Regions from separate parts of the Homo sapiens genome. Here region 1 is linked to region 2. Evidence: fine-mapped expression QTL. A gene starts in region 2. The other region holds a variant in brackets. All regions are shown on one strand. Distances are between the middles of the regions.

Region 1 (16,320 bases), 31 kb after region 2:
CTGGGTGACAGAGCAAGACTCCGACTCAAAAAAAAAAAAAAAATCCAAATGTAATAGAAAAATGCAATCACAAAGGTAACTTTGAACAAACATTTCTGAATAATTCTGTATTCTAACTTATGAGTACAAGAAAATGTTGGTATGCTATTTGTACTTTTTTTTTTTTTTTGAGACGGAGTCTCACTCTGTCACCCAGGCTGGAGTGCAGTGGTGCGATCTCATCTCACTGCAACCTCTGCCTGCCAGGTTCAAGCCATTCTCCTGCCTCAGCCTCCTGAGTAGCTGGGGCTACAAGCGTGCACCGCCACACCCGGCTAATTTTTGTATTTTTAGTAGAGACGGGATTTCACCATATTGGTCAGGCTGGTCTCGAACTCCTGACCTCATGATCTGCCTACCTCAAGCCTCCCAAAGTGATGGGATTACAGGCTTGAGCCACTGTGCCCAGCCGCCTGGCTAATTTTTGTATTTTTTAGTAGAGACAGGGTTTCAACATGTTGGCCAGGCTGGTCTCGAACTCCTGACTTCAAGTGATCCACCCACCTTGGCTTCCCAAAGTGCTGGGATTACAGGCGTGAGCCACCATTCCCGGTTCAGTCCTTCCAGATTTTCTAAATTCTACTCTGTCATTAAATCCAGCTTCCCAGAGCTAAATAATCAGACCGCATTGCTTTGGCCTCATAGAATCACCTTCATGGAATTTCACTTCGGCATTAAGTCATCAGTTGCATCCAAGGACCCTGGGGCATCAGCTACAAACCCAGGTCCACGAACATGCGAATCACAGGGATCTCACTGAGGGTTTCTGGGTGAAGCTTCTCCAGGGTCTCCTGCAGGAACAGCTGTGCCTCTCTTGAGCATGTGGCTGGCTGTAATTTTATGGAAACTGAATCATGTTTCAATCCTTGAGAGGGAGGACTTGGGGGAAGTCAAATTTATGGCCCACTTCCAGCATCTATGCGAGACAATGAAATGTGCACATCCGTGGGCTAATAACTCCTGGCATTTAAAACAAAACAAAATGAACAAACAAAAAAAGCCTCATGTTCAAACTTCCCCGAGCATTTGTTTGTTTGTTTGTTTTTCTGTTGTATAGTTTTTTTTGTTTTTTTGTTTTGTTTTGAGACAGTCTCGCTCTGTCGCCAGGCTGGAGTGTGGTGGCACAATCTCAGCTCACTGCAACCTCCATCTCCTGGGTTCAAGTGATTCTCCTGCTTCAGTCTCCTGAGTAGCTGGATTACAGGCAGTAGCCACCACCCCCGGCTAATTTTTTGTATTTTTAGTAGAGATGGGGTTTCACCATGTTGGCCAGGATGGTGTCGATCTCTTGACCTTGTGATCCGCCTGCCTCAGCCTCCCAAAATGCTGGGACTACAGGAGTGAGCCACCATGCCCATCCTGTTGCTGTAGTTTTATCAGGTATCTCAATTCCCCTTGTAGAACAAGGAGGGATATAAAGAAATAAACCAAAATATAAATATATCTCCTGCCCATAACAGATGCTTTATTCATGATCAGATATCCACTTCTCCCACCCAAAAATGAAAGGCATAAAAGCCTCTAAGATGGAATCCCTTGAGTCAGGAGTTTGAGGATGCAGAAAGCTGTGATTATGCCACCGCACTCCAGCCTGGGTGAGACAGTGAGACCCCATCTCTTAAGAAAACAAAACAAAAAATAACAATAAGATGAAAAAATATCGTTTGACCCTGCCTCAAACTTCATAAATTTTCTGACGTTATAGAAACCTATTCTCAGCTGGGCACGGTGGCTCACGCCTGTAATCCCAGCACTTTGGAAGGCCAAGGAGGGCAGATCACTTGAGGTCAGGAGTTCGAGACCAGCCTGATCAATATGGTGAAACCCCATCTCTACTAATTATACAAAAATTAGTCAGGCATGGTGGTTGGCACCTGTAATTCCAGCTACTCGGGAGACTGAGGCAGGAGAATCGCTTGAACCTGGGAGGAGGAGGTTTTGGTGAGCTGAGATTGCGCCACTGCATTCCAGCCTGGGCAACAGAGGGAGACTCTGTCTCAAAACAAAACAAAACACAAAACAAACCAATTCTCTGCACGCTACAGTGAACACAACCAAAATGACTTCACACTGGGTAGCCGATGATCTAAAAGTCCTGTGTATTTTGCCCATCTTGTATTATAAAAGCTCGAAAGCCAGATATTCTATTTCCCACCGTCTCTTCCAAATAGATTTAGTTCTAGGGTTGCCAGATTTAGCAAAAAAAAAAAAAAAAAAATACAGAACGCCCAGTTAATTTGAATTTCAGGTAAACAACACATAATGTTTTTAGTGTAAGTATACTGCAAATTTCAGGTAAACAACACATTATTTCTTTAGTGTATGCATGTGCCAAATATTACATGGGTCCCAGTTATATATTTTTTTAATTATGTGTTCTTTACTGAAATTCTATTTAACTGGGCATTCTGTATTTCATTTGGCAACCCTACCCAGTTCTTAGCATGAGATACAGAGGGAAGTCTATTAGGCATATTTGGGAACAATTTTATTCTGGATAAAAAAGACAGAAACCACTGAAAAAAAAAAAAGACCCATCTTTTTTCCTGCCATGAATGCAGTTATGATGCCTGGCACTCTGGGAGCTACTTTGTGATCATGAGGCAACAAGCTGAAGATGAAAAGTCAACATGCTGTCCAGGCGCAGTGGCTCACCCCTGTAATCCCAGCACTTTGGGAGGCCGAGGCAGGTGGATCACTTGAAGCCAGCAGTTCGAGACCAGCCTGACCAACAGGGTGAAATCCCATCTCTACTGAAAAATAAAACAAAACACACACAGAAAAAACAATGAAAATTAGCTGGGCATGCTGACGCATGCCTATAATCCCAGCTACTCAGGAAGTTGAGGCACTTGAATCATGTTTCAATCCTTGAGAGGACTTGGGGGGAAGTCAAATTTGTGGTCTACTTCCAGCATCTGTGCGAGACAATAAAATGTGCACATCTGTGGGTAATATAACTCACCGATTATATTAGGGAGGCAGAGGTTGCAGTGAGCCAAGATCACGCCACTGCACTCCAGCCTGGGCGAGAGAGTGAGACCCTGTCTCCAAAAAAAGAAAAAAAGTCAACATGCCAAGGAAGACAGAGCAGAAGGCATGAATCCAAGCTCTTGGTGGCATTCATCAATTAATGGCGTATTCCTGAAACCATTTAGATAGTGCATTTCAAAAGCCGTTTCTGCAACTAAGTATTCAAAAGCCTCACTAAGAACTGTAAGACTTTTGAGGAGAGGGTCATTCTTCATCAACAGCATCAAGGGGTGCCCAGAAAAGGAGAAATAAGCCAACCTGACAAATGGGAAGAAATGAGACCCCACACCTTCATGTAATGGTGGTGCTGGGGGAAAAGAAAAAGATTTTATGTGCTATTAAGGGCAGGGAGAAAGGAGACACATATAACATAGCAGTCAAAAGCACAGGCTCTAAAGCCAACCTGCCTGGTTTCAAATTCAGTTCCATCATTGATTGGCTGTATGACCTTGGACAAATTACACAATTTCCACATACCCTTATTTCCTCATGTTTAAAATGAGAATAAGGCTGGGCACAGTGACTCACGCCTGTAATCCGAACACTTTGGGAGGCCAAAGCAAGAGGACGGCGTGAGCCCAGGAGTTCAAGACAAACCTGGGCAACACGGTGAGACCCCATCTATACAAAATATAAAAAATCAGTCAGGCATGGTGGCATATGCCTGTAGTCCTAGCTAATTAGACTTGGGAGGTTGAGGTGGGAGGATCCGTTGAGCCCAAAGTGGTTGCAATGAGCTGCGATTATGCCACTGCGCTCCAACATGGGTGACAGGAGTGAGGCCCGGTCTCAAAAAAAAGTGAGGATTAAAACAAACTGACGTGGAGTTGTTATAGGGACGGAATAAATTAACACAAGCAATTAGAAGCACAAATATGCAATTGGTTAGTAATGACGGAAGACACGGGTATACAGGCATGCTCTCTTGCGAATGCGAATCCATCTGCCTAGGGGACTTTGTATGACAGTCTCAGGAAAGCTTCCTCGGCCAGCTTAAATGGAAAAGCTGCTTCTCTTTTTTTCTTTTTCTTTTTCTTTGAGACGGAGTCTTGCTCTGTTGCCCAGGCTGGAGTGCAGTGGTGCGATCTCAGTTCACTGAGAGCTCAACCTCCGCTTCCTGGGTTCAAGTGATTCTCGTGCCTCAGCCTCCTGAGTACCTGGGATGACAGGTGTGCGTCACCATGCCGCGCTAAGGCTAGTTTTGTTGTTGTTGTTGTTTTTGAGGCAGAGTCTCACTCTGTCGCCAGGCTGGAGTGCAGTGGTGCGATCTCGGCTCACTGCAACCTCCACCTCCCGGGTTCAAGCAACTCTCCTGCCTCAGCCTCTGGAGTAGCTGGGACTACAGGCACGTGCCACCATGCCCAGCTAATTTTTGTATTTTAGTAGAGACGGAGTTTCACCATGTTGGCCAGGATGGTCTCGATCTCTTGACCTCATGATCCACCCGCCTCGGCCTCCCAGAGTGCTGGGATTACAGGCGTAAGCCACCACGCCTGGCCTAATTTTCTTTTTTTTTTTTTTAATAGAGACAGGGTTTCACCATGTTGGCCAGGCTGCTCTCGAACTCCTGACCTCAAGTGATCCGCCTGCTTTGGCCTCCTAAAGTGCTGGGATTACAGGCATGAGCCACTGCACCCAGCCAATAAGCTGCTTTTGTTAGGTGAATCCATGGCTTTCCCACATAAAGGTTGCCATACCTTACAGTAAGGCATATTTGACAGTCCTCCAAAAGAATGAAAGCTCCTTAAGGGCATATGTCATGTCTGTCTTGCTTATACAGTAGGTGCTTATCTTTCATTGAATAAAATAATAAAATAATGAAAGGAGCCAGGTGCAGTGGCTCACACCTGTAATCCCAGCACTTTGGGAGGCCGAGGAGGGCAGATTGCCTGAGGTCAGGAGTTCAAGACCACTCTAGCCAACATGGTGAAACCCCGTCTGTACTAAAAATACAAAAATTAGCTGGGTGTGGTGGCGCACACCTGTGATCCCAGCTACTCAGGAGGCTGAGGTAGGAGAATTGCTTGAACCTGGGAGGCAGAGGTTGCAGTGAGCTGAGATCATGCCATTGCACTCCAGCCTGGGCAACAGAGCAAGACTCCATCTCGAGGAAAAAAAAAAAATGAAAGGGTCAAGGAAGTTTGCATTTGGGGTGGGCTTTGAAGGTGGGCAGGGTTGCAGGCATGAACTCTGGGGAAAGCACAGGCCAAGGAGAGAGGCTGGCATTAGATACAGCCTGGCGGCACCTGGTTTTTTGACTAGAAAATAAGACTACATGTAAGATGAGGCCCAATCACAGAGCATCTTCCTTGCCTTGTTAAGAGTTGGGCGTTCAGGCATTAAGCAAAGAGGCAGCTTTGACAGTCTTTGGTCACTGGAATGATGTGCTCAGGGCTTCAGGGGACAGGTTTGTTGTCTACAGGAATGCAGGAGGCTGAGAACAAAGGCCAAAAAGATTCTTGTGAGACAGAAGACTGAGTCTGGGTGGCAGCAGTACAGTAGAGACAGTTATGATAAACACGCTGATTGAGGAAAAGGAACCAAACATGGCCTCCTAGCCAGTGAGGAGAACAAGGAGAAGCAAGGAGTCGATGACTCTGAGGATGCTGAGTGGAGTGGAGGTCCTGCTGGGAAGGAATTCAAAGCTCATTAAAGAAGAGCTATTTAGGGCCAGGCGTGGTGGCTCATGCCTGTAATCCCAGCACTTTGGGAGGCCAAGGAGGGTGGATCACCTGAGGTCAGGAGTTCGAGAGCAACCTGGCCAACATGGCAAGACCTCATCTCTACTAAAAATGCAAAAATTAGCTGGATGTGGTGACTCATGCCTGTAATTCCAGCTACTCAGAGGTTGAGGCAAGAGAATCGCTTGAACCTGCGAGGTGGAGGCTGCAGTGAGCTGAGACTATACCACTGCACTCCAGCCTGGGTGACACAGCAAAACTCCGTCTCAAAAAAAAAAAAAGAAAAGAAAAGTAAAGTTATTTAGGAGAGGGGGAAAGATGTATTTGGTTTTAGAAATGTTGTTTGAGAAGCTGGTGAGTCACCTAAGAGGAGGTTAAGATAGGCTCCTGGGAATTCCATCTAGGAGACATCAGACTTTTCCCTCTGTTTGGTTAATTAGGGTTAAGATCCAGGTTTCAGGCCGGCCACGGTGGCTCACACCTGTAATCACAGCACTTTGGGAGGCCAAAGCGGGTGGATGACCTGAGGTCAGGAGTTCGAGGCCAGCCTGGTCAACATGGAGAAACTCCATCTCTACTAAAAATACAAAAATTAGCTCGGCATGGTGGCGCTTGCCTGTAATCCCAGCTACTAGGGAGGCTGAGGTGGGAGGATTGCTTGAACCCGAGAGGCAGAGGTAGCAGTGAGCTGAGATTGTGCCACTGCACTCCACCCTGGGTGACAGAGCAGGACTCTGCCTCAAAGAAAAAAAGAAAAAAGATCAAGGTCTCAGATAAGCTTTGGAGTCTGAAGCCTATGGTGAGAACAGCTAGAGAGAAGATGAATAAGGAAACAGAGGACAGGAACAACACTGTGAACAAACTGGACCTAACAGACATGTGCAGGACACTCCACACACATGCAGCGAATGCATGTTTAATTAATACCAATTCTTCTCAAACTAATTCAAAAGAAAAAAGAAAAAGGAGGAAACACTTCCTAACTGATTCTAAAAGCATGGCCCCAGTACCAAAGCTAAATGAAGACCCTGGAAGAAGATTACAGACTAATATCTCATATAAAGATTGAGGCCGGGTGTAGTTGCTCACGCCTGTAATCCCAGCAGCACTTTGGGAGGCCGAGGCAGGTGGATCATTTGAGATCAGGAGTTCAGGACCAGCCTAGCCAACATGGTGAAACCCCGTCTCTACTAAAAATACAAAAATTGGCCAGGCATGGTGGCTCACGCCTGTAATCCCAGCACTTTGGGAGGCCAAGGCGGGTGGATCACTAGGTCAGGAGTTTGAGGCCAGCCTGGCCAACACAGTGAAACCCCGTCTCTACTAAAAATACAAAAAATTAGCCAGGCGTGGTGGCGGGCGCCTGTAATTCCAGCTACTCAGGAGGCTGAGGCAGGAGAATCACTTGAACCCAGGAGGCAGAGGTTGCAGTGAGCCAAGATGGTGCCATTGCACTCCAGCCTGGGTGACAAAAGTGAAACTCCATCTCGAAAAAAAAAAATTAGCCGGGCGTGGTGGCACATGCCTGTAATCCCAGCTACTCAGGAGGCTGAGGCACGAGAATCGCTTGAACCTTGAAGGTGGAGGTTGCAGTGAACAAGATTGTGTCACTGCACTCCAGCCTGGGCAACAGAGTGAGACTCTGTCTCAAAAAAGAAAAGAACATTACTAGGCTGGTTGTGGTGGCTCAAGCCTGTAATGCCAGTACTTTGGGAGGCTGAGGCAGGCAGATTGCTTGAGTTCAGGAGTTTGAGACCAGCCTGGGCGACATGGCGAAACCTCATCTCTACAGAAAAAATATCAAAAAAAGCCAGGCATGGTGGCAACATGCCTGTCATCCCAGCTACTGAAGAGGCTGAGGTGGAAAGATCACTTGAGCTGGGGAGTTGGAGGCTGCAGTGAGCCGTGATCAAGCCACTGAACTCCATGCTGAGCGACAGAGTGAGACCTTGTCTCAACAACAATAATAAAAAAGATGGATACAAAAATCCTCAACGAAAATTCTAGAAAACTGTCGCTCAGCGTGGAGTTCAGTGGCTTGATCACGGCTCACTGCAGCCTCCAACTCCCCAGCTCAAGTGATCTTTCCACCTCAGCCTCTTCAGTAGCTGGATGATAGGCATGTTGCCACCACGCCTGGCTTTTTTTGGTATTCTAGCAAACTGAACTCAGCAGTATATTAAAAGAATTATATGCCATGACCAAGTGGAATTATTCCTGGAGTGGCCCAATGTACAAAAATCAACCGATGTAATGTACCACATTAACCAAAGGGGAAAAAAAAACACACACACACACAATCATCTCAATTGATATAAACAAAAATTTGAGAACATTTATATCCTTTCATGATTTAAAAAGCACTCAACGAAATTAGAAATAGGAAATTAATTCAATATAATAAAGACTATTTATTTATGAGGCAGGATTTTGCTATGTTGTCCAGGCTGGAGGGCAGTGGCATGATCATTACTCACTGTAACCTCAAACTCCCGGGCTCAAGCTATCATCCTGCCTCAGCCTCCAAGTAGCTAGGCATGCACCACCATGCCCAGCTAATTTTTTAGTTTTTTGTAAACAAAGAGTCTTCCTATGTTGCCCAGACTGATCTCAAACTCCTGACCTCAAGCAATCCTCCCACCTCAGCCTCCCAAACTGCTGGGATTACAGGCAGGAGCCACCATACACAACCTGACCATATAAAAAAACCCACAGCTAATATCATACTCAACAACGAAAGACTAAAAGCTTTTTCTCCAATAGCAGGCATAAGACAAGGATGTCCACTTTTTACTACTTCTATTCAATATCGGATTGAAGGTAGACAGAGAAATTGTGCAAGAAAAACAAAGAGAAGGCATCCAAAATGGCACAGAAGTAACATTATGTCTGTCATGATCTTATATATAAGAAATCCAGGCCGGGCGTGGTGGCTCACGCCTATAATTCCAGCACCTTGGGAGGCTAAGGCAAGCAGATCACCTGAGGTCAGGAGTTCGAGACCAGTCTGGCCAACATGGTGAAACCCCGTCTCTACTGGAAATACAAAAATTAGCTGGGTGCGGTGTTGTGCACCTGTAGTCCCAGCTACTCGGGAGGCTGAGGCAGGAGAATCGCTTGAGCCTGGGAGGCGGAGGTTGCAGTGAGCAGAGATCGCACCATTGTACTCCAGCCTGGGCAACAAGAGCAAGACTCCATCTCAAAAAAAAAAAAAAAGAAAAAGAAAAAGAAAAGAAAAGAAAAGAAAAAAAGAACAAATATTGTTCTTTCGAAAGATTTCACGTACAGGAATATCTGAGAGATATTGCAGGTTTAGTTCCAGATCATCTCAATAAAGTGAATATCACATGAATTTTTTGGTTTCCCAGTGCATATAAATGTTATGTTTATGCTATACTGTATTCTATTACGTGTGCAATAGTATTATGTCTTTAAGATGTGCATGCCTTACTTTAAAAATACGTTATTGCTTTAAAAATGCTAATGATCATCTGAGCCTTCAGCAAGTCATCATCATTTGGCTGGTGGAGAGTCTTGCTTTGATGTTGATGGTTGCTGGTTGAGCAGGGTGGTGGTTACTGAAAGATCAGTGAATGGCTGTGCAGACAACAATGAAGTTTGCCTCATTGGTTGACTCTTCCTTTCCCGAAAGATTTCTGTGGCGAGAGAGGCTGTTTTACAGCATTTTACTCACAGTAGAACTTCTTTCAAAATTGGAGTCATTCCTTTTAAACTTTGCTGCTGCTTTATCAACTAAATTTGTGTAACATCTTAAATCCCTTATTGTCATTTCAACAATGTTCACAGCATCTTCAAGGATGTAGGAGTAGATTCTATCTCAAGAAACCACTTTCTCTGCTCATTCATAAGTAGCAATTCCTCATCCGTTGAAGTCTGATCATGAGATTGCAGCAATTCAGTCACATCTTTATGCTCCATTCCTAATTCTAGTTACCTTGCTATTTCCACCACATCTGCAATTCCTTCCTCTACTGAAGTCTTAAATGCCTCAAAATCATCCATGAGGGCTGGAATCAACTTCATCCAAACCCATTAAGGTTGATATTTCGACCTCCTCCCATGCATTACTAATTTTTTTTTTTTTTTTTTTTTTGAGACGGAGTCTAGCTCTGTGGCCCAGGCTGGAGCGCAATGGCGTGATCTCGGCTCACTGCAACCTCCGCCTCCCGGGCTCAAGCAATTCTCCTGCCTCAGCCTCCTCAATAGCTGGGATTACAGGCATGTCCCACCACACCCGGCTAATTTTTGCATTTTTAGTAGAGAAGGGGGTTTCACCATGTTGGCCAGGCTGGTCTTGAACTCCTGACCTCAAATGATTTGCCCATCTCGGCCTCCCAAAGTGCTGGGGTTACAGGCATGAGCCACCGTGCTCGGCTACTAATGTTCTTAATGGCATCTAGAATGGTGAATCCTTTTCAGAAGGTTTCCAATGTACTTTACCCAGATCCATCAGAGAAATCACTACCTATGGTGGCTACAGCCTTACAAAATGTATTTCATTATTATTTTTTTTTTTTTTGAGATGGAGTCTCACTCTGTCGCCCAGGCTGGAGTGCAGTGGCGTGATCTTGGCTCACTGCAACCTCTGCCTCCCAAGTTCAAGCGATTCTCCTGCCTCAGCCTCCCAAGTAGCTGGGACTACTGCCGCCCGCCACTGCGCCGGGTTAATTTATGTATTTTTAGTAGAGACGGGGTTTCACCATATTGGCCAGGCTGGTCTGGAACTCTTGACCTTGTGATCCACCCACCTCGGCCTCCCAAAGTGCTGGGATTACAAGCGTGAGCCACTGCACCTGGCCTTACAAAATACATTTCTAAATAGTAAGACTTGAAAGTCAAAATTACTCCTTGATCCGTGGGGCTGCAGAATGAATGTTGTGTCAGCATGCATGAAAACAGCATTCATCGCCTTGCACATCTCTGTCAGAGTTCTTTGGTGACCAGGTGCACTGTCAATAAGCAATAATATTTTGAAAGTAATTTTTTTTCTCAGTAGTAGGTGTCAACAATGGCCTTAAAATACTCAGTAAACCACACCGTAATCAGATGTGCTGTCACCTGGGCTTTGTTGTTCCATTTCTATAGCACACAGATTTGGCACCTTTTTTTTTTTTTTTTGAGACAGAGTCTCACTCTGTCACACAAACCGGAGTGCAGTGGCACAATCTTGCTTCAGTGCAACTTCCACCTCCCAGGTTCAAGCAATCCTCGTGCCTCAGCCTCCCAAGTAGCTGGGACTACAGGCATGCACCACCACACCCAGCTAATTTTTGTATTTTTTAGTAAAGATGGGGTTTCACCATGTTGGCTCGGCTAGTTTCGAACTCCTGGCCTCAAGCAATCCGCCTGCCTTGGCATGACCCACTGCACCCAGTGGATTTAGCATAATTCTTAAGGGCCCTAGGATTTTCAGAATGGTAAATAAGCACTGACCTTAACTTAATGTCACCAGCTGCATTTCATACTAGACACTAAGAAGTCAGGCTTTCCTATGAAGTTTTGAAGCCAGGCATTGAATTCTCCTCTCTAGCTTTGGAAGTCCTAGATGGCATCCTCTTGCAAGAGAAAGCTGTTTTGCCTACATTGAAAATCTGTTGTTTAGTGTAGCCACCTTCCTTCATCAATGATCTCAGCTGGATCTTCTGGACAACTTGCTTCAGTTTCTCCATCAGCACCTGCTGCTTCACCTTGCACTTTTATGTTATGGAGACGGCTTCTTTCCTTAAACCTCAGGAACCAACCTCTGCTAGCTTCCAACTTTTCTTCTGCAGCTTCCTCTCCTCTCTCAGCCATCACATAATTGAAGAGAGTTAGGGCCCTGCTCTCGATTAGGCTTTGGCTTAAGGGAAGGTTGTGGCTGGTTTGATCTTCTATACAGACCGCTCAAACTTTCTCCATATCGGTAATAATACAGTTTCGCTTTCTTATCATTCATGTGTTCACTGGAGTAGCACTTTTTCATTTCCTCCAAGAACTTTTCCTTTGCATTCACAACTTGGCTGTTTGGCACAAGAGGTCTAGCTTTCGGCCTATTTCAGTTTTTTTTTTTTTTTTTTTTTTTTTCAGATGGAGTCTCACTCTGTCACCCAGGCTGGAGTGCAGTGGTGCCATCTTCGCTCACTGCAACCTCTGCCTCCCAGGTTCAAGCGATTCTCCTGCCTCAAACTCCCAAGTAGCTGGGACTACAGGC[G/A]CCTGCCACCACACCAGGCTAATTTTTGTACTTTTAGTAGAGATGAGGTTTCACTATGTTGGCCAGGCTGGTCTCAAACTCCTGACCTCAGGTGATCCGCCCACCTCGGCCTCCCAAAGTGCTGGGATTACAGGCATGAGCCACCACAGCCGACCCTATTTCAGCTTTTGACGTGCCTTCCTCACCAAGCTTAATCATTTCCAGCTTTGATTTAAAGTGAAAGGCATGTGACTCTTTGTGACTCTTCCTTTCACTTGAGCATGTAGAGGCCATTGTAGGGTTATTAACTGGCCTAATTTCAATATCAAATTTGGAATAGGACGGATGGGAGGATCACTTGAACCCGAGTTCAAGACCACCCCTGGCAACATAGGGAGACCCTGTCTCCACAAAAAAAGTTAAAAATAGCCAGGCTTGCTGGTGTGTGCCTGTGGTTCAGTTACTCAGGAGGCTGAGGAAGGAGGATCACTTGAGCCCAAGGAGGTTGAGGCTGCAGAGAGCTATGACTGCACTACTGCACTCCAGCCTGGGAGATGGGGCAAGACCCTTTCTGAAAACAACAACAACAAAAAGTAAACATTGTGGGGCCAGGCACGGCGGCTCACGCCTGTAATCCCAGCACTTTGGGAGGCCGAGGCAGGTGGATCACGAGGTCAGGAGATAGAGACCATCCTGCCTAACGTGGTGAAACTCCATCTCTACTAAAAACACAAAAAAAATTAGCTGGGCATGGTGGCGGGCTCCTGTAGTCCCAGCTACTTGGGAAGCTGGGGCAGGAGAATGGCGTGAATCCGGGAGGTGGAGCTTGCAGTGAGCTGAGATCGCGCCACTGCACTCCAGGCTAGGTGACAGAGCAAGACTCCGTCTCAATAAAAAAAGTAAACATTGTTTCTGCTAATGCTATACATATACCAGAGTTACCCCTTTCCTGTGGTTTTGTTTTCCAAGGTTTCCGTTACCTGAGGTCAGTTGAGGTCCAAAAATAAGTGAGTATAGCTAAGATATTTTCTTTTTTTCCAAGATGGAGTCTTGCTCTGTCATCCAGGCTGGAGTGCAGTGGCGCAATCTCGGTTCACTGCAACCTCTGCCTCCTGGGTTCAAGCAATTCTCCTGCCTTACAGATGCCTGCCACCAAGCCCGGATTTTTTTTTTTTTTTTTTTGTATTTTTAGTAGAGACAGGGTTTCACCATGTTGGCCAGGCTGGTCTTGAACTCCTGACCTTGTGATCTGCCCATCTCAGCCCCCCAAAGAGCTGGAATTACAGGCGGCGGGGCGGTGGGGGGGGGGTTTCACCATGTTGGCCAGGCTGGTCTCGAACTCCTGACTTCAGGATCCACCTGTCTTGGCCTCCCCAAGTGCTGGGATTACAGGCGTGCACCACTGCACTCGGCCAGTTAAGATATCTTCAAAGACCACATTCACATAACCTTAACATATTGCTATAGTTGTTCTTTTTTAAATTGTTGCTAGTCTTACTGCACCTAATTTATACATTTTATCACAGGTATTTATTGATAGGAACACATCCCATCAACTGGCATGCCACTAGAGGTGCAGGGCCCACACTCTAGGGGACACTGATTTAAGGATTCTGAATGGTAGAAGAGAGGCTGTTACCTCTCCAGCAGAGGAGAGCGCTGGGGACTTCTGCAGTGCCACCCTGCACATGCAGGTTCAGGCTCGCAGCGCCAGTCACATAACTTAAGAAGTCCCTGTAGACAAGGTCTACCCATCACTCAGGGAGTTCAGCAGACAGGTATGGGACAAGCCTTATGTTTCTGAAATATGAGGTCATCACTCAGGGGCCCTATGAACCTGTCTCATAACTGCATTGACTTCTAGTTGTGGCTGTAAGTTTAAGCCCCCAACTTGGTGGCTCAAAACACCACAGATCAGTCTGGGCACAGAGGCTCATGCCTGTAATCCCAGCACTTTGGGAGGCCAAGACGGGCGGATCACTTGAGGTCAGGAGTTCGTGACCAGCCTGGCCAACATGGTGAAACTCTATCTCCACTAAAAATACAAAAATTAGACAGGCATGATGGTATGCACCTGTAATCCCAGCTACTTGGGAGGCTGAGGCGGAAGAATCACTTGAACCCGGGAGGCAGAGGGTGCAGTGAGCCGAGATCGCGCCACTGCACTCCAAGCCTGGGCAACAGAGCAAGACTCCATCTAAAAAAAAGAAAAAAAAAAAAAAAAAACCACCACCACAGATGTATTCTCTTACGGCTCTGGAGGTGAGAAATCTGAAATCGATTTCTCTGGGCTAACATCAAGGTGTTGGCAGGCAGTTCCAGCTGGAGGCCAAGGGAGGGTCTGCTGCTATTGCCCTAGGTAGCATCCCCTGGTTGCCCCTGCTTCTTGTCTGGGCCCCTCTGACTCTGACGCCTCGTCTGTCCCTCTAATGAGGACCCCGTGATCCTATCAGGCCCACCTGGATAACCCAGGACCACCTCTTCATCTCAAACCCCTAATCCCATTTGCAAAGCCCCTTTGCCACAGAAGGTAACACACACTCACAGGTTCTGGGGATCAGGACATGGACACTTTAGGGGCCATTCTTCAGCCTGCCACCATGACCAAGATGAAGGAGGCAACTGAGCAGGCCAGTGTGGCCAGGGCGGAGACAGGAGCCCGAGAAGAGCACTAGCCTCACATCTGGTGGAGGACAAGGGTCAGGGAGTGAGGCACAATGTCATGTGCTGCAACAAACAGCATGTGAGGGAGTAGATCCTAAAATGGACTCAAGGTCATGGGCCGGGTGTGACTCACAGGGAGTAAGCCAAGGTCAAAGCAGACTTGGGGTCCTTGGCTTTAGCTAACACAGAGGTGAACCCTGGCCCGCCCAAGCCATGGGGCACGGAACGAGCAGCGGCAGCCAGCAGAGGTCCAACCACAGGCGACTGGTGGCAAGTGAGATTTATTTAAACAACGACATGTCAACAGGAACAGGAAGAGGAACATGTGCGACCACTGTAGTGACCAAGGCTTCTCAAGAGTGTGGGATGAGACCTGCGGACGAGGCCCGCCCACCGCTCAGGGAGCTTGCAGGTCTCCTCCAGGAGGGCAAGTGGCTTCGGCTTCTGGCTCGGCATAAGCCTTCGACAGATTAATAAGTTATCTCCTTCAGCCCTGAGGGGAGAGACACACAGACACCATTAGGAGACTCTGGTGGCCAGGAGCAGAGGCCCCTAGAGGACCCCCAGTGACCGGCTCAGGGGCACCAGCCACACTGCTGACCACTGTAGCACCGCCCTCCTGCTACATAAAATGAGGTTTCGCAAGGAAACAAAAGGTTGGGTAAGACTGTGTTTATGGGTGGTTTTAAAATGATTAAGAAAACATTATAACAGTTTATGGACTGTCTGCAGTTAACGCCAAAAATCTACCCTTTATGTGCTGAACTTTGAGCAAAGGCAGATACGGATCTTCCACACACACAGACAAGCACTGATGTCCCAAAGCAGTCACGGGTCAGTGGGGACAAAGTAAATTCCTGACATTAAAATGCTCAATATATTGTTCCTTTGTGAGAACTAGAGTTCACTTAAAAGTATTACAAATAACCTACATTTCCAAAAATATGGAAATATTAATTCAGCCATAGTGACATAATACAATATTATAAAGCCATTACAATTATGCTCATTGAGCATTTTTAATTGCCAGGGGGAAATGCTAATGTTATAACATTAAATTGAAAACACTTGAAATCAAAGTTGCATAAATATAAAAATTCAACTCTTATTATAAAAACAAACAAAACACTATTTAGAAATAGAGGGGAAGGGAAAAGTCACAAGAGGTCATCTCTGACTGACAGGCATACAGGTGGATTTTCTTAGTCATACTTTTTAGAAGCTTTTAAGTTTCCTACTAAGAAGTATTTTTTAATATAATTAAGAGGAGGATAACATACAAATACCCCAATAAGTGACTTTTTTTTTTTTCTGGAGACAGAGTCGCGCTCTGTTGCCCAGGCTGGAGTACAGTGGTGCCATCTCAGCTCACTGCAACTTCTGCCTCCCGGGTTCAAGAGATTCTCCTGCCTCAGCCTCCCAAGTAGCTGGGACTACAGGCATGTGCCACCACGCCCAGCTAAATTTTGTATTTTTAGTAGAGACGGGATTTCACCATGTTGGCCAGGCTGGTTTCGAACTCCTGACCTCAGGTGATCTGCCTGCCTTAGCCTCCCAAAGTGCTGGGATTACAGGCATGAGCCACTGCGCTCAATTCACAATAAATGACTTTAAATCCAAAAGGAATGTGAAGGCCAGGCACAATGGCTCATGCCTATAATCCCAGCACTTTGGGGGGCCGAGCCAGGCAGATCACTTAAGGTCAGGAGTTCG
Region 2 (16,430 bases):
TTAGATATACCTGCATCCACATCCCAGCTCTGCCAGATTTTACTGTGCGACCCTGCGTGAACTACTGAACCTTTCTGAGCCTCACTTTGTTCAGCTGAAAAATAGTAATGGGGCTAGGCGTGGTGGCTCACGCCAGCAACCCCAGCACTTTGGGAGGCTGAGATGGGTGGGTCACTAGAGCCCAGGAGTTTGAGACCAGCCTTGCCAACATGGTGAAACCCCATCTCCACTACAAATACAAAAATTAGCGGGGTGAAGTGGCAGGCACCTGTAATCCCAGCTGCTCAGGAGGCTGAGGCACCAGAATCACTTGAACTCTGGAAGCAGAGGTTGCAGTGAGCTGAGATCACACCACTGCACTCCAGCTTGAACAACAGAGCAAGACTCCGTCTCAAAAAAAAAAAAAAGAAAAAGAAAAAGAAAAATGGGGATAACCCAGTCATGGCTCCAGGTTACAGACCTAAAACTTATGTAACTTAGATGATCCTCTTTGAGAAAAAGAACATAAACTATCTTTTTATTTTTCTTTGACACAGAGTCTAGCTCTGTCACCCAGGCTGGAGTGCAGTGACACGATCATAGCTCACTGCAGCCTGGACCTCCTGGGCTCCAGTGTTCCTCCTACCTCAGCCTCTCATGTAGCTGGGACCACAGGTACATACCAACCATGCCCACCTAATGTTTTTTTTAAAATTTTTTGTAGAGATGGAAGGTCTTACTATGTTGCCCAGGCTGGTCTGGAACTCCTAGGCTCCAGTGATCCTCCCGCCTCTGCCTCCCAAAATGCTGGGATTACAGGCACCAGCCGCCATGCGTGGCTAAAAATACCTTACTCTTAGAAACTTTACAAACACATATGATCAGGTGAACTCATTGCTAAGCCCCCACAGGACCGTGGAAGGGGCATGTGCAGGAGAGCCCTGAAGCCTGAGCTCAATTATTTCTATGGGCGATCGGCCTCAGGGCTATCACAGCCCCGAAGGGGAAAGACAGTGCAGTGCACAAGCTTCTGGACTCTGGATCCAGTCGGGGCTGTGCTGCTTACAGGCACGTCTGAACTTGAGCAAGTTACCTGCTTCTCTGCACCTCTGTTTTCTCATCTATAAAATAGGGATGATACTGACAGCTCCCAGCTCACAGACAAGGCCGTTGGTGTGCCTGGCACAAGGTAAGCGCTCTCTATGAACTGACTATGGTTTTTCATAAAGTTGCTGGGAGATGAAATAAGAGAATATGTGTAAAACATTTAGCAGGAAGAATGTGCTTAGGGAACCCTGCTGCCCCGCAGCTGTCAGAACCATGTTTGACAGGTTTTAAGTGGCAGGGCTTGAGCTCGAGTCTGGCCACTGCTTTTCAGAGCAGAAGCCGAGAAGGAAGGTCCCGGGCGTGTTCCATAGACAGGGGAACAGGCTGTGGCTCTCAAATTGGGACATGGAGAGACCACAGCAGGGGATGACAGTAAAGTGAGGCTTGAGAACAAAGTCTGCGGTGGGTCAGCACTTACAGCTTCAGACCCTATCACAGCCAAGCTGACAGAGCTCCCCCATCCACCACCCCCCACACACACACCAAGCAAGGCCCACATCTTGAAGGGCTTGAAGTATCCCTGGCTGAACCAAGACTTAAGGGCAAAAGAAAAGAAAGAAAGAGAGGGAAAAAAAAGAAAAAGAGGGATGAAGGGAGAAAGTCTATCCATGGATTTATGCATAAAGCTATGAAAACTCTGTGGCTGGCCAGGCTCGGTGGCTCATGTCTGTAATCCCAGCACTTTGGGAGGCCAAGGCAGGAAGATCACTTGAGGCCAGGAGTTGGAGGCCAATGTGGTCAACACAGCGAGAGCCCACCTCTACAGAAAAAAATTTTTTTTAATTTATTTATTTTTTATTGATAATTCTTGGGTGTTTCTCACAGAGGGGGATTTGGCAGGGTCATAGGACAATAGTGGAGGGAAGGTCAGCAGATAAACAAGTGAACAAAGGTCTCTGGTTTTCCTAGGCAGAGGAAATTAGTTGGGTGTGGTGACACACACCTGTAGTCCCAGCTACTCAAGAGGCTGAGGCAGGAGGATCACTTGAGCCCAGGAGGTCGAGCCTGCAGTGAGCTATGATTGCACCACCACACTCCAGCCTGGACAACAGAGTGAGACCCTATCTCTAAAATAAAAAAGAGAGGCCGGGCACAGTGGCTCATGCCTGTAACCCCAGCACTTTGGGAGACCAAGGCAGGTAGATCACTTGAGCTCAGTAGTTCAAGACCAGCCTGGCCAACATGATGAAACCCCGTCTCTACTAAAAATACAAAAATTAGCTGGGCATGGTGGCATGCGCCTGTAATCCCAGTTACTCAGGAGGCTGAGGTGGGAGAATTGCTTGAGCCCAGGAGGCAGAGGTTGCAGTGAGCCAAGATCAGGCCACTGCACTCCAGCCTGGGTGACAGAGCAAGACTCCATCTCAAAAAAACAAACAAATAAAAAATACAATAAAATGCAATAAGAAAGAAAGAGAGAAGAAAAACGTCCACCAATTCCACTGGCAGAAACAAGCAAAAGATTGGACATTTCCCCACTCCCCACTGTCCCACACACACACCCACATATGCACCTCCAGCAGCCCCATCAGAGAGGAAGACTAGCCCAGCCCCTGGGGTTTACCCACCTTGGCCAAGGCAGCCCCGAGCATCCCCCCGAGCAGCTGTGAGACCCAGTACGGGAGGAGCATCACCAGGTTGAGGCCTCCGATCAGCATGGCTGCCAGGGACACCGCAGGGTTGAAGTGTCCACCACTGTAACCCACAAGAGCAGAGGAAGTCATGAGCCCAGGGCTGACCACATGGCTGGCACTTGAGACAGTGTGTCCCAGCCAACCCACCAGGCTGGCCTCTCAGGGCAAGAGTCAGTCCGGGGCCCAGCTCAAATACAAAGAGGCACCAAATTGCTTCCATTTTCCCTGAGATGCCAGGCAGAGGGTAAGAGATAAAGGGCAGCCTCTAAGTCCAAAGCCCAGCCCCCAGGATGGCCCTGGAGGAAGAGCGTGTAGGGAGACCATCCCTTAACTCCTCCCTGACTCCCTCCAAGCCTCCCTCCAGCCCTTCAGAGATGTGGCCACAGGTCAGATTGAGATACCAAGGCTCCAAGTTAGTAGCCCAAGAGCGGTATCCAGGCCTCCCCTTATGATTTGTTTGATTTTACGAGACGGAGTCTTGCTCTGTCGCGCGGGCTGCAGTGCAATGGTGTGATCTCGGCTCACTGCAGCTTCCACCTTTTGAGTTCAAGCAATTCTTCTGACTCAGCCTCCTAAGTAGCTGGAACTACAGGTGTGTGCCACCACGCCTGGCTTATTTTTGTATTTTTAGTAGAGACGAGGTTTCACCATGTTGGTCAGGCTGGTCTCAAACTCCTGACCTCAAGCGATCCACCCACGTCGGCCTCCCAAAGTGCTGGGGTTACAGGCACGAGCTACCGTGCCCGGCCCGGGTCTCCCTTTATGAGTAGCTAGGCCCTGAATAAGACCTCCTGATTGGTTGAACTGCTCAGCCAGTGAAAACCCTACTTGTGGTCTGAAAGTGTGATGGGTGTAAAATGCAGATTTGGAGTTCAGGCTGAAAATGGCATTGAGAATCACGGGGTGGAGTTGGAGGTTCATGACCAGGTTAGGGATTGGGATTGGGAGTTTGGGGTGTGGAAGGGAATTAGACAAGTCAGAACCTGAGGTCAAAGGGCAGGTTGCAGTTGATCAGCCACCCCCTGGCTCATGGGTAAAGAGCCTTCGTGTTCACCAAGATGTTCAACCAGCCCAGGCCCCAGAGCCAGGGTGGCTGCACTCACATCAGTGTCCCAACCAGTCCCACTCTGATGGAGGAAATATTGTCACAGTTTGGCCTCCTGAATCCATCTGGTTTCCAGGAATGGATACTCCCCAATGAGAGAGAAAGGGACCCCAAGACTCCCCATGTCACTTGAGAACCAAAGTGCCCCCCTAATGTAAAGAGCCCACCAATGAGCTTACCCATCCTCCAAAGGACATAGGACATTCAGTTGAGACTGGGCAGAGGACCTCAGCTCTGCCCAAAAGGACTTTGTCCAACACCCTGATAGCTCGAGACCAGCTACCCCAACTTGTCTGGCTCAGCTCTGGGCCCAGGCCCTCAGATAAGCTCCATGCACGGTTTGATTTGATTTGTTTTTTGTTTTTTGTTTTTTTTTTTGAGACAGGGTCTCCCTTTGTCACCCAGGCTGGAGTGCAATGGTGCAATCTCGGCTCACTGCAACCTCCGCCTCCTGGTTTCAAGCGATTCTTCTGCTTCAGCCTCCCAAGTAGATGGGATAACGGGGCTGCCACCACGCCCGGCTAATTTTTGTATTTTTGGTAGAGACGGGGTTTCACCATGTTGGCCAGGTTGGTCTCGAACTCCTGACCTCAGGTGATTCACCTGCCTCGGCCTCCCAAAGTGCTGGGATTACAGGCGTGAGCCACTGCGCCTGACCTCCATGCATGGTTTGAAAGCACCAGCCAGTGCTCAGACTCCACAGGTTGGGAAGAGGGGCAGCCAGGCCTACTTGGCCTCAAGTAGCTTAGCCTGGGCTCTGCTGAGATACACAGATGAAGTCAGGGTGAGGCGGCTTCCCAGGGGAGCCCCAAAGGGGAGAGAAACTGTCACCCAGAGCATGGCTCTATCAGGAGGGCCAGGTGACGAAAACCACACATTTCCTGGTTTACACTCATTAGCAATAAAACAATCAAGACACATTCATTCATTCATTCATTGTTCACTCAGCATATATTTCTCTGACACTTACTGTGTGCCAGGGGCTGTGCTGGGTGCTTATAACTTACATACATAGCTTATCCTGGATCCAGTGAACAACCTCAAAGTCAGTGTCTGGCACGCAATAGGTGCTGAATAAATATTTGTCAAAAAAGCCAAACAGAGAGGCAGTATTTGCAGTGCCAAAGAGATGGTCTTTCCAGCCAGCTGGCCTGGGTTCAAAGCTCAACTCTGCCACTGAAGAGCTGTGTGGCATTGGCAAAGTTACATAACCTCTCTGTGCCTCAATGATCTCTGCCTGATAAAGCTATTGCAAAGATATTAAGAATTAATATTTGTACAGCCCATAGTAGTATCTATGTAGTTAGCATTCAAAAAACATCAGCTATTATTATTACTCATATTTATACCACTGCACACAGAGGCTTCAGCAACTTGCTGTGGTCACCCTGCTAAGAAGTGATAAAGGTTGCCTTCAATCTCAGATCCGTCCAAAGGGAAGATCATGTACTTTTTGTTTCACTTGCAGCCTCCCTTGGACGTCTAAAGAGATGTGGTTTGTTTTTTGTTTGTTTGTTTGTTTGTTTGTTTTTTGGAGATGGAGTCTCACTCTGTTGCCCAGGCTGGAGTGCAGTGGCACAATCTCGGCTCACTGCAACCTCTCCCTCCCAGTTCAAGCAATTCTCCTGCCTCAGCCTCCGAAGTAGCTGGGACCACAGGTGCCTGCCCCCACGCCCAGCTAATTTTTGTATCTTTAGTAGAGACAGGGTTTCACCCTGTTGGCCAGGCTGCTCTCCAACTCCTGACCTCAGGTGATCCACCCGCCTCAGCCTCCCAAAGTGCTGGGATTACAGGCGTGAGCCACTGCACCCGGCCTAAAGAGATGTTAAAGCTCTTTTCCATTCTGGTTTTCTCAGAAATAGTATTTCTGTTTCCTCATTCAGATCTATTTTTTGAGTGAGATTTAATACAGACCAACCATGTCCCAGATCACCCTGCCAGGCACCCCACTCAAGATCTTCGTCGTGATGGCTGGCTCTCCTGGGAACCAGCAGCCATGTCCACAGACCTCCCCATTGAGCCTCTACCCAGACGAGAGCTAAGCCAGAGAAGCCTGTCCCTTTCCCTGCCCCTCCTTCTTGATCACCTCTTGACAAGCCAGGACCACTGCAGATCTCTGCATACCCAGGTGGGAAAACCTGGCTCAGGTCTTCTATGCATTTCTGCTTTCCCTAAAACCCCCTTCTAGTGGTAACAATAACACAGCAACCAATGCCTGTTGTATGTTTGGTGTGTGCCAGGCGCTCTACTTCATTTAATTCTCATGACTTCCGCATGAGGCACTTGGATTTGAGCGCTGGAGCCAGACAGCTTGTTCTTGACTCCCGCCTCTGCCACTTTCTGGCCCTCTAAGCTTGGACAGATTACATGGCCTTTCACTTTTGCAGCTGTACAATGGGGCTAATAACAGGACCTACCCCACAAGGCTTTTGTGAGGATTAAATAACTAATATCTATAAAGTAATTAGACTAGTGCCTGGTACATGGTTAGCAATATAGATATGTTGGCTTGAAAAAAAAAACATTTAAAAGCTACTATTCCCATTTTATAGGCGGGGAACTTTGGGTTTAGAGAGTAACTTGCCAGCCAGGCATGGTGTCTCATGCCTGTAATCCCAAAACTTTGGGAAGCCAAGGCAGGAGGATCGCTTGAGACCAGGAGTTCAAGACTAGCCTGGGCAACATAGTGAGACCCCATCTCTACAACAAAATTTAAAAATTAGTTGGGTGCTGCGGCGCATGCCTGTGATCCAGCTACTCAAAAAGAGAATGACTTGCTCAAAGTCACAAGCTCACAGGCTGCGGGGTCTGGAGTTGACCCCAGTCTGACTCCCAACCCCATAGTTATCCAGAGCGCTCCTTGAAATCCCGAATACGTATGCGCCCAGGGGTCCTTGACAACGCCTTTGCTTTCCACACCCAGTGCCCCAAGTCAGCATCAGGCTGAATCCTCAGAGCTGGTCTCACCTGATATTCCCCAGCGTGGCAATCACGAGCCCCAAAGCCAGCCCGTGGGCCAGGGCCGGCTGCAGCAGCCCAGTGTCCGTCCCATTCTCAATGACCGACAGGCACCCGATGAAGATGAAGAGAGCAGAGCCCAGCAGTTCGACCAGACATGGCTGCACAAACCGTTCGTACCAGGACACTCGCCACCTGCCACCCACGCTCGGCTCCCTGGCCTTGTCATTGCCAAATTCAGGCTCACACATGGCTATCTGCCGTAGGGAAAAAGGGACAGAGGACACGGGTGGGAGGCAAGTCCAGATATAGAAGGCCCCGACCCCCAACCTTGAATTAATTCACAGCCCCCCTTGCTCTGCCAGCCTGGAGAGGAAGATGCCGACAGAGGGCTCACCTCTCCAGACATCAGGATCAGATGGCACAAACATCGGACTCTTGCCTGAGCTGCTGGGAAACCTGCACCTGCTGTGCAAGATACTCTTATCTCCTAGGGACAGGACCTGCTGATCACACTATGGGCTCTGCCCCTTTTAAAGGGCTGCAGAGGCTCAATGCTGGTGCAGAGAAAGCAATAAACCTCAGGTAGGAGGCGGCTCTGAGGCCCAGAAGAGGAAATTTTTTTAAATCTCAACAGGGCAGGGTGAGGGAGTCAGGGATTGCTGAACTTTCCGCCAGTGAGGGAAAAACACGCCAGCTTGGCTGTGTCATCTGGGAGCACACTCCAGGCTGTAGAAGGTGGGAGATGGGTCCAGCACCCCAGCTCCCCACGGTCCAAAGCAGAACAGCACATGTTAGTGGGCCCCACTGGGTTGGAACCTCACATGTTAAGAAACAGCAAACAGCCAGGTGCAGTGGCTCACGCCTGTAATCCCAGCACTTTGGGAGGCCGAGGCAGGTGGATCACGAGGTCAGGAGATTGAGACCATCCTGGCTAACACGGTGAAACCCCGTCTCTACTAAAAATACAAAACTCAGCCGGGCGTGGTGGTGCACGCCTGTAATCCCAGCTACTTGGGGGGCTAAGGCAGGAAAATCATTTGAACCTGGGAGACGAAGATTGCGCAGAGCCAAGATTGTGCAACTGCACTCCAGCCTGGGCAACAGAGCAAGGCTCTGAAAAAAAAAAAAAAGGAAAGAGAAAGAAGAAAGAAAGACAGAGAAAGAAAGAAAGGAAAGAAAAGAAAGAAAGAAAGAAAGAAAGAAAGAAAGAAAGAAAGAAAGAAAGAAAGAAAGAAAAAGAAAGAAAGAAAGAAAGAAAGAAAGAAAGAAAGAAAGAAAGAAAGAAAGAAAAAGAAAGAAAAAGAAAGAAAGAAAAGAAGGAAGGAAAGAAAGAAAGAAAGAAAGAAAGAAAGAAAGAAAGAAAGAAAGAAAGAAAAAAGAAAAAGAAAGAAAAGAAGGAAGGAAGGAGAAAGAAAGAGAGGGCGTGTTGGTGTTTGCCTGTAATCCCAGCTACTCAGGAGGATGAGGCATGAGAATCACTTGAACCCAGGACCCAGAGGTTGCAGTGAGCCAAGATCGCGCCACTGCACTTCAGCCTCAGAGTGAGACCCTGTCTAAAAAAAAAAAAAAAAAAAAGAAAGAAAGAAAGAAAAAAGAAAAGAAAGAAACAGCAATCCCATTTTCAATTATTTTTCCAATGAGTCCCACAGCTTCAAACACCTGCAGTCACCGTGACAGCCTGAGCCAGGACTGAGTGTATAGATGACGATCCTTCACAGACAGAGGCAGCAGAGACTGGCAAGAGGTAATGCAATGCAGCGGCAAGACCCATGAACTTTGGAAATAGGCTGCCTGGCGTTCAATCCCAGCTCTGCTGTAAACTAGCTATGTAACCCTTGGGCACATGACTTGGCCTCTCTGGGCCTTTGTTTTCTCATCTGTTAGGTGTGGATGTTAGTGGTTTCACCATGTCATAGGGTCGTTGGGAAGTTTAAATGAGATAATACGGGTAAAGTGCTCAGGACAGTGCTAGACACACAATACCAGTGTCCACTAATTTACAATACATGCTTAGCTGTAACTAATAGCTAATAGTGAGCACTTTCTATGTGCCAGGCACTGGGGCTAAGTGCCTTCTATTATCTCATTTAAACCTCACTGCCACCCTGTGAAGCAGGTACTATTATTACAACCATTTCACAGACGAGGAAGTGGAGTGTCAGGAAGATTGAGTTTCCCAAGATTACACAGCTTATATGATCACAGAACTTGTGGGCTGTCACAAAAGGATAAATACTGTATCTGATTCCACTTGTATGAAGTACCTAGACTAGTCAAATTCATAGAGACAGAAGTAGAATGGTGGTTTCCACGGCCCGAGGGGAAGGGAGAATGAAGAGTTTGTGTTTAGCGGGTACAGATTTCCTGTTTGGGAGGAAAGTTTTGGGATGGATGATACAGTGGCACAACAATGTGAAGTACTTAATGTCACTGAAATGTACACTTAAAAATGGTTCCAAATGCTGGGTGTGCTTGGCTCACACCTGTAATCTCAGCACTTTGGGAGACCAAGGCAGGAGGATCACTTGATTTTAGGAGTTTGACACCAGTCTGGCCACATGGTGAAACCCTGTCTCTACTAAAAATACAAAAATTGGCTGGGTGTGGTGGTGCACGCCTGTAATCCCAGCTACTTGGGAAGCTGAGGCAGGAGAATCGCTTGAACCTGGGGGGCAGAGGTTGTAGTGAGCTGAGATCACACCACTACACTCCAGCCTGGGTGAGAGGATGAGACTCCATCTCAAAAAAAAAAAGGTTAAAATGGCATATTTTATTTTATGTGTATCTTGCCACAATTGAAAAAAAATACTTGTGAGCTAACCCACTACACTCTACTGCCTTTCTAAGAGAGATGGATGGATGGATGGATGGATGGATGGATGGATGGATGGATAAGTGGATGGATGGGTGGATGCATGGATGGATGGGTGGATGGATGGATGGATAGATAGATGGTTGGGTGGGTGGGTGGGTGGATGGATGGATGGATGGATGGATGGATGGATAGATGGGTGGGTGGATGGATGAATGGATGGATGGATGGATGGATGGTTGGAAAGAAGGGAAGAAAGAAAGGAAGGGAGGGAGGAAGGAAGGGAGAAAGGAAGGAGGAAGGAAAGAAAATGAGATGAGTTCCTTATTCATTCATTCACTCACCAAACATTTAAATAGCTGCTGCAAGCCAGTCACTGTTCTAAGCTGGCTGGAGATGTAGCAGTGAACAAGACAGGCAAAATCCTGCTCTGTCTCATAGCTTTATCTTTGAGTGTTTGTATGCACTGATAGAGAAGTCAAGCTAGAGCTAACGGAATTTTAATGCTCATTTCTGACATTTCTCAACTACTCACTACATCTCCAACACCATGCTAAACACTCGGTATATATTCGTAAACCCCTTTGAGATAAGTCCTATCACTTATTATCACCATCTTCAGATGATAAAAACGAGGCACAAAGAAGTTAAGAACTCACCCATGGCTGTGTACATAAAAATATCTGCTTCAGGACAGAAGTGGACATATCTAGAGAAGAGCGTGACAGTTTGTTGACAGCCCATGTCAGCGAGAGGCCCAGGAATACAGGGTCTCTGCCAAATATCTGCACCTCTAGGAAGGTTATTTTTAGCCCTGTTCTCTACCTCCTCCATATCCCACAGCACATCATACAAGATGTTTCTTAGACCCTTCCTTCCACATCCTATAAATAGCAACATAAGATAGTCTGACCCAAGGCTTCCCCATCCCCCTCATTATTTGCTCAAATCCTGCCAGTACTGCTTCCAGAATAATTCTCTCTTGTTTTCACCCATGCCTTCATCTGTTCTTGCTTAGTCCCTTGAACAAAGAAAAACTAAGCTGGATGCACTGGCTCGCACCTGTAATCCCAGCACTTTGGGAGGCCAACGCGGGCAGATCACAAGGTCAGGAGTTCAAGACCAGCCTGACCAACATGGTGAAACCCCATCTCTACCAAAAATACAAAAATTAGCTGGGCATGGTGGCACACGCCTGTAATCCCAGCTACTCAGGAGGCTGAGGCAGGAGAATCGCTTGAACCTGGAAGACGGAGGTTGCAGCGAGCCGAGATCACACCACAGCACTCCAGCCTGGGCCACAGAGCGACACTCCATCCCACCCCCCCACCCCCCAAAAAATGGATTCTTTGCTCACATAATAGTCCATGACAGGCTCGTCTCCAAATGGTGACTCAGGGATCCAGGCCACTTCCATCTTGGAGCTGCCCCATCTAGGTCCTCAGATCTTCTCCAGCAAAATGGGAAAAAGAGAATGTGGAGGGCTGTGCAGGAAATTATTATGGGCTAGGCCTAGAAATACCATATATCCCTCTCACCTATATTTGATGGGCTCAAACTCAGTCACGTGGCTTCACCTGACTGCAATCGAGCCTGGGAATTGTAGTCTAGCCCTGTGCCCAGGAGGAAAAAGAAAGGCATTTTATGAATATCGAGCAATTTCTGCCACATACTAGAAATTGTTGCTTTCCCAGAGACCATGGTTCTAGTTGAGTTTTTCCCTGAATTAAATCATTCAGTGTGTCCCATGGTTCCAAGACAAACCCAGACTCCCTTAGCTAGCCACAGAGACTTCAGTTCCTAGCCCCTGAATCATCTCTTGCCACATGAACCCTAAACAATTTATCAGATAAGCTATGTACCCTCACCCGGCCTTGTCCATGCCAGTCCCTCTGTTTGGAGTCCTTGTTTGCCCTCTTGGCCAACTTCTACTCCTCATTCAGATCTCAGATCAGATATTATGTCCTCTCTGATGCCTGGGCAAACTACCTATTGGTCCTCTAAAAACACCCTTCCCTTGCTCAAGGCAAGGTTGGATTCCATAACTCCAAAACTAGGCCAGTGCAGCGGCTCATGCCTGTAATCCCAGCACTTTGGGAGGCCAAGGCGGGTGAATCACAAGGTCAGGAGATCGAGACCATCCTGGCTAACACAGTAAAACCCCATCTCTCCTAAAAATACAAGAAATTAGCCGGGCATGGTGGCACGCGCCTGTAGTCCCAACTACTCAGGAGGCTGAGGCAGGAGAATTGCTTGAACACGGGAGGTGGAGATTGCAGTGAGCCAAGATTGCACCACTGCACTCCAGCCTTGGCAACAGAGCAAGAGTCCGTCTTAATTAAAAAAAGAAAAAAAAAAGGAAAGAAAAAGAAAACTAGTGGCTTCCAGGGAAAACCTGAATGCCATTCAGACAAAACAACATATTTCCACTACATGAGAGTTTTAGAGTATGTCCTGATGTCCTCATACACAATATACTGTCTCTCAAAACCACTGAAAAACCTAGTGGGCTAAGGAGATACTGTCTTCCTAAAAAATTCTTTGGCTGGCAAACTTCCTAGTTTTCCAAATCCAGGTCTGGTTAACAGGACCAAGGCTTCTAATCTTTATCCCTGTTTGGTTGGCAAGACTTCTCTGCATCTATACCTGTCTGCCATCCCCCACCAGGTCCAGATGGAGTGTAGAAACAGGTCACATTTTACCCTGGCATCTCACCTTTCCCTTCTCTCTTGCCTTGATGGCTGCACTGTTGTGCCAGATGTGACGCTGCTGCTGTGGCAGCCATCTTGGACCGTATATATAGGCCAGATGTAGTGGCTCACCCTTGTAATCCCACCATTTTGGGAGGCCGAGGCAGGTTCATTACCTGAGGTCAGGAGTTTGAGACCAGCCTGGCCATATAGTGAAACCCCGTCTCTATTAAAAATACAGACATTAGGCCGGGCGCGGTGGCTCACGCCTGTAATCCCAGCACTTTGGGAGGCCGAGGCGGGCGGATCACGAGGTCAGCAGATCGAGACCATCCCGGCTAAAACGGTGAAACCCCGTCTCTACTAAAAATACAAAAAATTAGCTGGGCGTAGTGGCGGGCGCCTGTAGTCCCAGCTACTTGGGAGGCTGAGGCAGGAGAATGGCATGAACCCGGGAGGCGGAGCTTGCAGTGAGCCGAGATCCCGCCACTGCACTCCAGCCTGGGTGACAGAGCGAGACTCCGTCTCAAAAAAAAAAAAAAAAAAAAAAAAAAATACAGACATTAGTGGGGCGTTGTGGCACACACCTGTAGTCCCAACTACTCAGGAGGCTGAGGCAAGAGAATCACTTGGACCTGGGAAGCAGCAATTGCAGTGAGCCAAGATCACATCATTGCACTCCAGCCTGGGCAACAGAGCAAGACTCCATCTTAAAAAAAAAAAAAAAAAAAAAAAAAAAAAATATATATATATATATATATATATATATATATATATATATATATATAAAATAAAATAAATATATATATAATATAAAATATATAGATATAAAAATATATATATATATGATTGTAAAACCTAAGACCAGTACTTGAGCTATTCTGCAGACCCTGTACTTGATGGATCAGCTAGCACCACCACCTAGATGGATAAACTGGCTCATGTGATCTTGTGGGCTCCCTCAGGAACTGACTCAGCGCAAGGAGACAGCTTCAACTCCATATAATTTCATCTCTGACCAATCAGCACTCCTGACTCACCGGCTTACTCCCACCCACCAAGTCGTCCTTAAAAACTCTGACCCCTGAATGCTTGGGGAGACTGATTTGAGTAATAATAAACTGGTCTTCTGCACAGCCAGCTCTGCGTGAATTACTCTTTCTCTATGGCAATTTCCCTATCTTGATAAATTGGCTCTGTCTAGGCAGCGGGCAAGGTGAACCTGCTGGGAGGTTATGTAATTATTTAAGAATGAAATACAAATATAAATAAAATATGTTTTTAATGTACTTGTCTTATTCAGTGTATGTGTATTATTGTCTGTACAATATATGTGAATGTTTTGTGTACATGTGGGGTTTTTTTACAAATGGCTACTAAGTTGTTAGAACATAAGAACTTTTTAAGTGTTTTGCACCTAATTCCTTAATAAATAGAGCTATTAGGTATTTTTTTTGGGGGGGGCCTCCGCACAGAGTGAACCAAGAAAGTTTGGGGTCCTCTGAATTAAAGAATTTATGTTCTTGTATTTCAAGTACTTGCAGAAGAGAACAGTTCTTGCAGATACATCATCCCCAAATTCCAGAGATACTGGGTTTCAGGTTAATAACTTCTCAAAGCTAGACACCATTTATAATGCAGAGACTTGACAATTTAGGCTGTGCTCTGTGGACAACCACAGAAACTTAAAGCAGAACCTGTCATTCTCTTCTGAAACTGCTTTCTTTCCATCTCGGTAGATTTGCAATTGTATTCAATGTATTACCACTTGGAGCTCAGGGCAACTAGCCATTGGAAGTAAGTCTAGTTTTCACCTTTCTGTCTTCTCAAACTGCAAGATTGAGAAGACATTTCTCAACTACTCACTACATCTCCAACACCATGCTAAACACTCGGTATGTATTTGTAACCCCCCTTTGAGATAAGTCCTATCACTTATTATCACCATCTTCAGATGATAAAAACGAGGCACAAAGAAGTTAAAGAACTCACCCATGGATGGATGGATGGATGGATGGATGGATGGATGGATGGAAGTTTGCACCTGAGCAACTTCCTTCCTCAGAGAAGTCACCAGCTCTTTCTATTCTCCCCTGCAGTGTCAAGGTCAAGGTGTTGAACGTCTTTCGAGTCACGAGTAACCAGTTATATTGGCTATTTCAGAATGCTTTACAGCCAAAAAGTCCTTGAACGAAGGAAGAAGTCCACTAAGTCTCATCAGCAAGGGTCCAGCTTCTCTTCATCTGCATGTTTTGAACAATAAAAATGACTACCACTTTCTGAGAACCTACTGAGAGCTTGGCACTCCGTCTTCCTTTTCTATCTCTTTTATCCTTTTTATCTACATCCAAATTAAATAACTCTACAGAAGAAAAAATCCAAATGATCAATAAACAGACAAAAAAAAACCTTAATCTCTGCAATAGCCAGAAAAAAATTCAAATTAAAGCAACAGAAATAACATTTTCACCATTAGATTGGTAGAAAGACTTTTTTAACTGATTAACATACAGTGCTGACAAAGAAGGGGAAAACAGGCCAGGCGCAGTGGCTCATGCCTGTAATCCCAGCACTTTGGGAGGCCGAGGCTGGCAGATCGCCTGAGGTCAGGAGCTCAACACTAGCCTGGCCAACATGGTGAAACCCTGTCTCTATGAAAAATACAAAAATCAGCCAGGCGTGGTGGCTCACGCCTGTAGTCCTAGCTACTTGGGAGGCTGAGGCAGGAGAATTGCTTGAACTTGGGAGGTGGAGGTTGTAGTGAGCCGAGATTGCATCACTGCACTCCAGCCTGGGCAACAGAGTGAGACTCCATCTCAAAAAAAAAAAAAAAAAAAGAAAAAGAAAAGAAAAAAAAGATGGGGAAACAGGAAAACTTATACATTGCTGGTGGAAGTGGGAATTGCTACAATATTTTGTAACACCATCTTGAAATGTTTATTGTTAAATACTTAGATATACACACCCTTGACCCAGCAAACCTCAAACTGGGAGTTCTAGCTACAGAAATAAAAGCTCCAGTAGGTGAGAATATAATTACAGGTACATTGTCTTCATCTTTTTATTTATTTATTTATTTATTTTATTTTTTTGAGATAGGGTTTCACTTCCATCACTCTGGCTGGAGTGGAGTGGTGTGATCTCGGGTCACTGCAACCTCCACCGCCTGGGCCCAAGCATTCCTCCCACCTCAGCCTCCCGAGTAGTTGGGACCACAGGTACACACCACCAGGCCCGGTTAATTTTGTTTCTGTATTTTTTGTACAGACAGGGTCTCACTATGTTTTCCAGGCTGGTCTTGAACTCCTGAGCTCAAGCAATCCACCTGCCTGGGCCTCCCAAAGGGCTAGGATTACAGGCATGAGCCACTACACCTGGCCAACTTCATCATTGTTCATCATAGGAAAAAAAAAAAAAAAAGATGAATGTCTACTTTCAGTGTCCTGAACATCCCATAGTTTCTCCCACTGTTCAAGTCTTCAGACAGTCTACTTCTTTTACCCAAACTGCTCCCTAATGCTGATGACAACCTACCCATCTTTCAAGTCTCAACTAAGAAAAAATAATTTTTGGGGGCTGGGCAAGAAAGTGAGACCCCATCTCTACAGATTAAAAATTAAAAAGCTGGTCAGGCTTGGTAGCATGTGCCTGTAGTCCCAGCTACATGGGAGGCTGAGGCAGGAGGATCATTTCAGTCCAGGAGGCCAAGGTTGAAGTTAGCCATGTTTGGGCCACTGCACTCCAGCTTGGGTGACAGAGTGAGAGCCTGTCTCAAACAAAAAACAACAACAAAAAATATATATATATGATTTTCTTGTTTTTTTTCTAATAACTTTATTGAGACATAATTGATATACTGCACATAAGATAAAAGGATAAAAAGATGATGATTTTTTTCTTTCTGAGACAGAGTCTCACCATATCGCCCAGGCTGGAGTGCAGTGGTGCGATCTCGGCTCACTGCAGTCTCCGCCTCCTGGGTTCAAGCGATTCTCCTGCCTCAGCCTCCCGAGTAGCTGGGACCACAGGTGCCCACCACCATACCCAGCTAATTTTTGTATTTTTAGTAGAGATGGGGTTTCCCCATGTTGGCCAGGCTGCTCTCTAACTCCTGAGCTCAGGAGATCTGCACATCTTGGTCT

The links. PIP is the estimated chance that this variant, and not a neighbour inherited with it, causes the effect.
Region 1: its variant is the best candidate, but not a certain one, in a credible set for the expression of AQP8 in cerebellum (GTEx, PIP 0.82).

The regions. Positions count from the first base shown.
Region 1 is chr16:25,176,781-25,193,100 of GRCh38, reverse strand. It overlaps LCMT1 (leucine carboxyl methyltransferase 1), which reads right to left. Exons shown (of 11, transcript NM_016309.3): 11 at 14,873-15,100. The coding sequence ends at 15,078. It also overlaps the pseudogene RN7SL557P. Among named protein-coding and RNA genes, the nearest start is that of AQP8, 32 kb to the left of the region's middle. The variant G/A (reference allele first, on the strand shown) is at 11,965.
Region 2 is chr16:25,207,808-25,224,237 of GRCh38, reverse strand. It overlaps AQP8 (aquaporin 8), which reads right to left and starts at 7,291. Exons shown (of 6, transcript NM_001169.3): 1 at 7,181-7,291; 2 at 6,793-7,040; 3 at 2,655-2,781. The coding sequence starts at 7,192.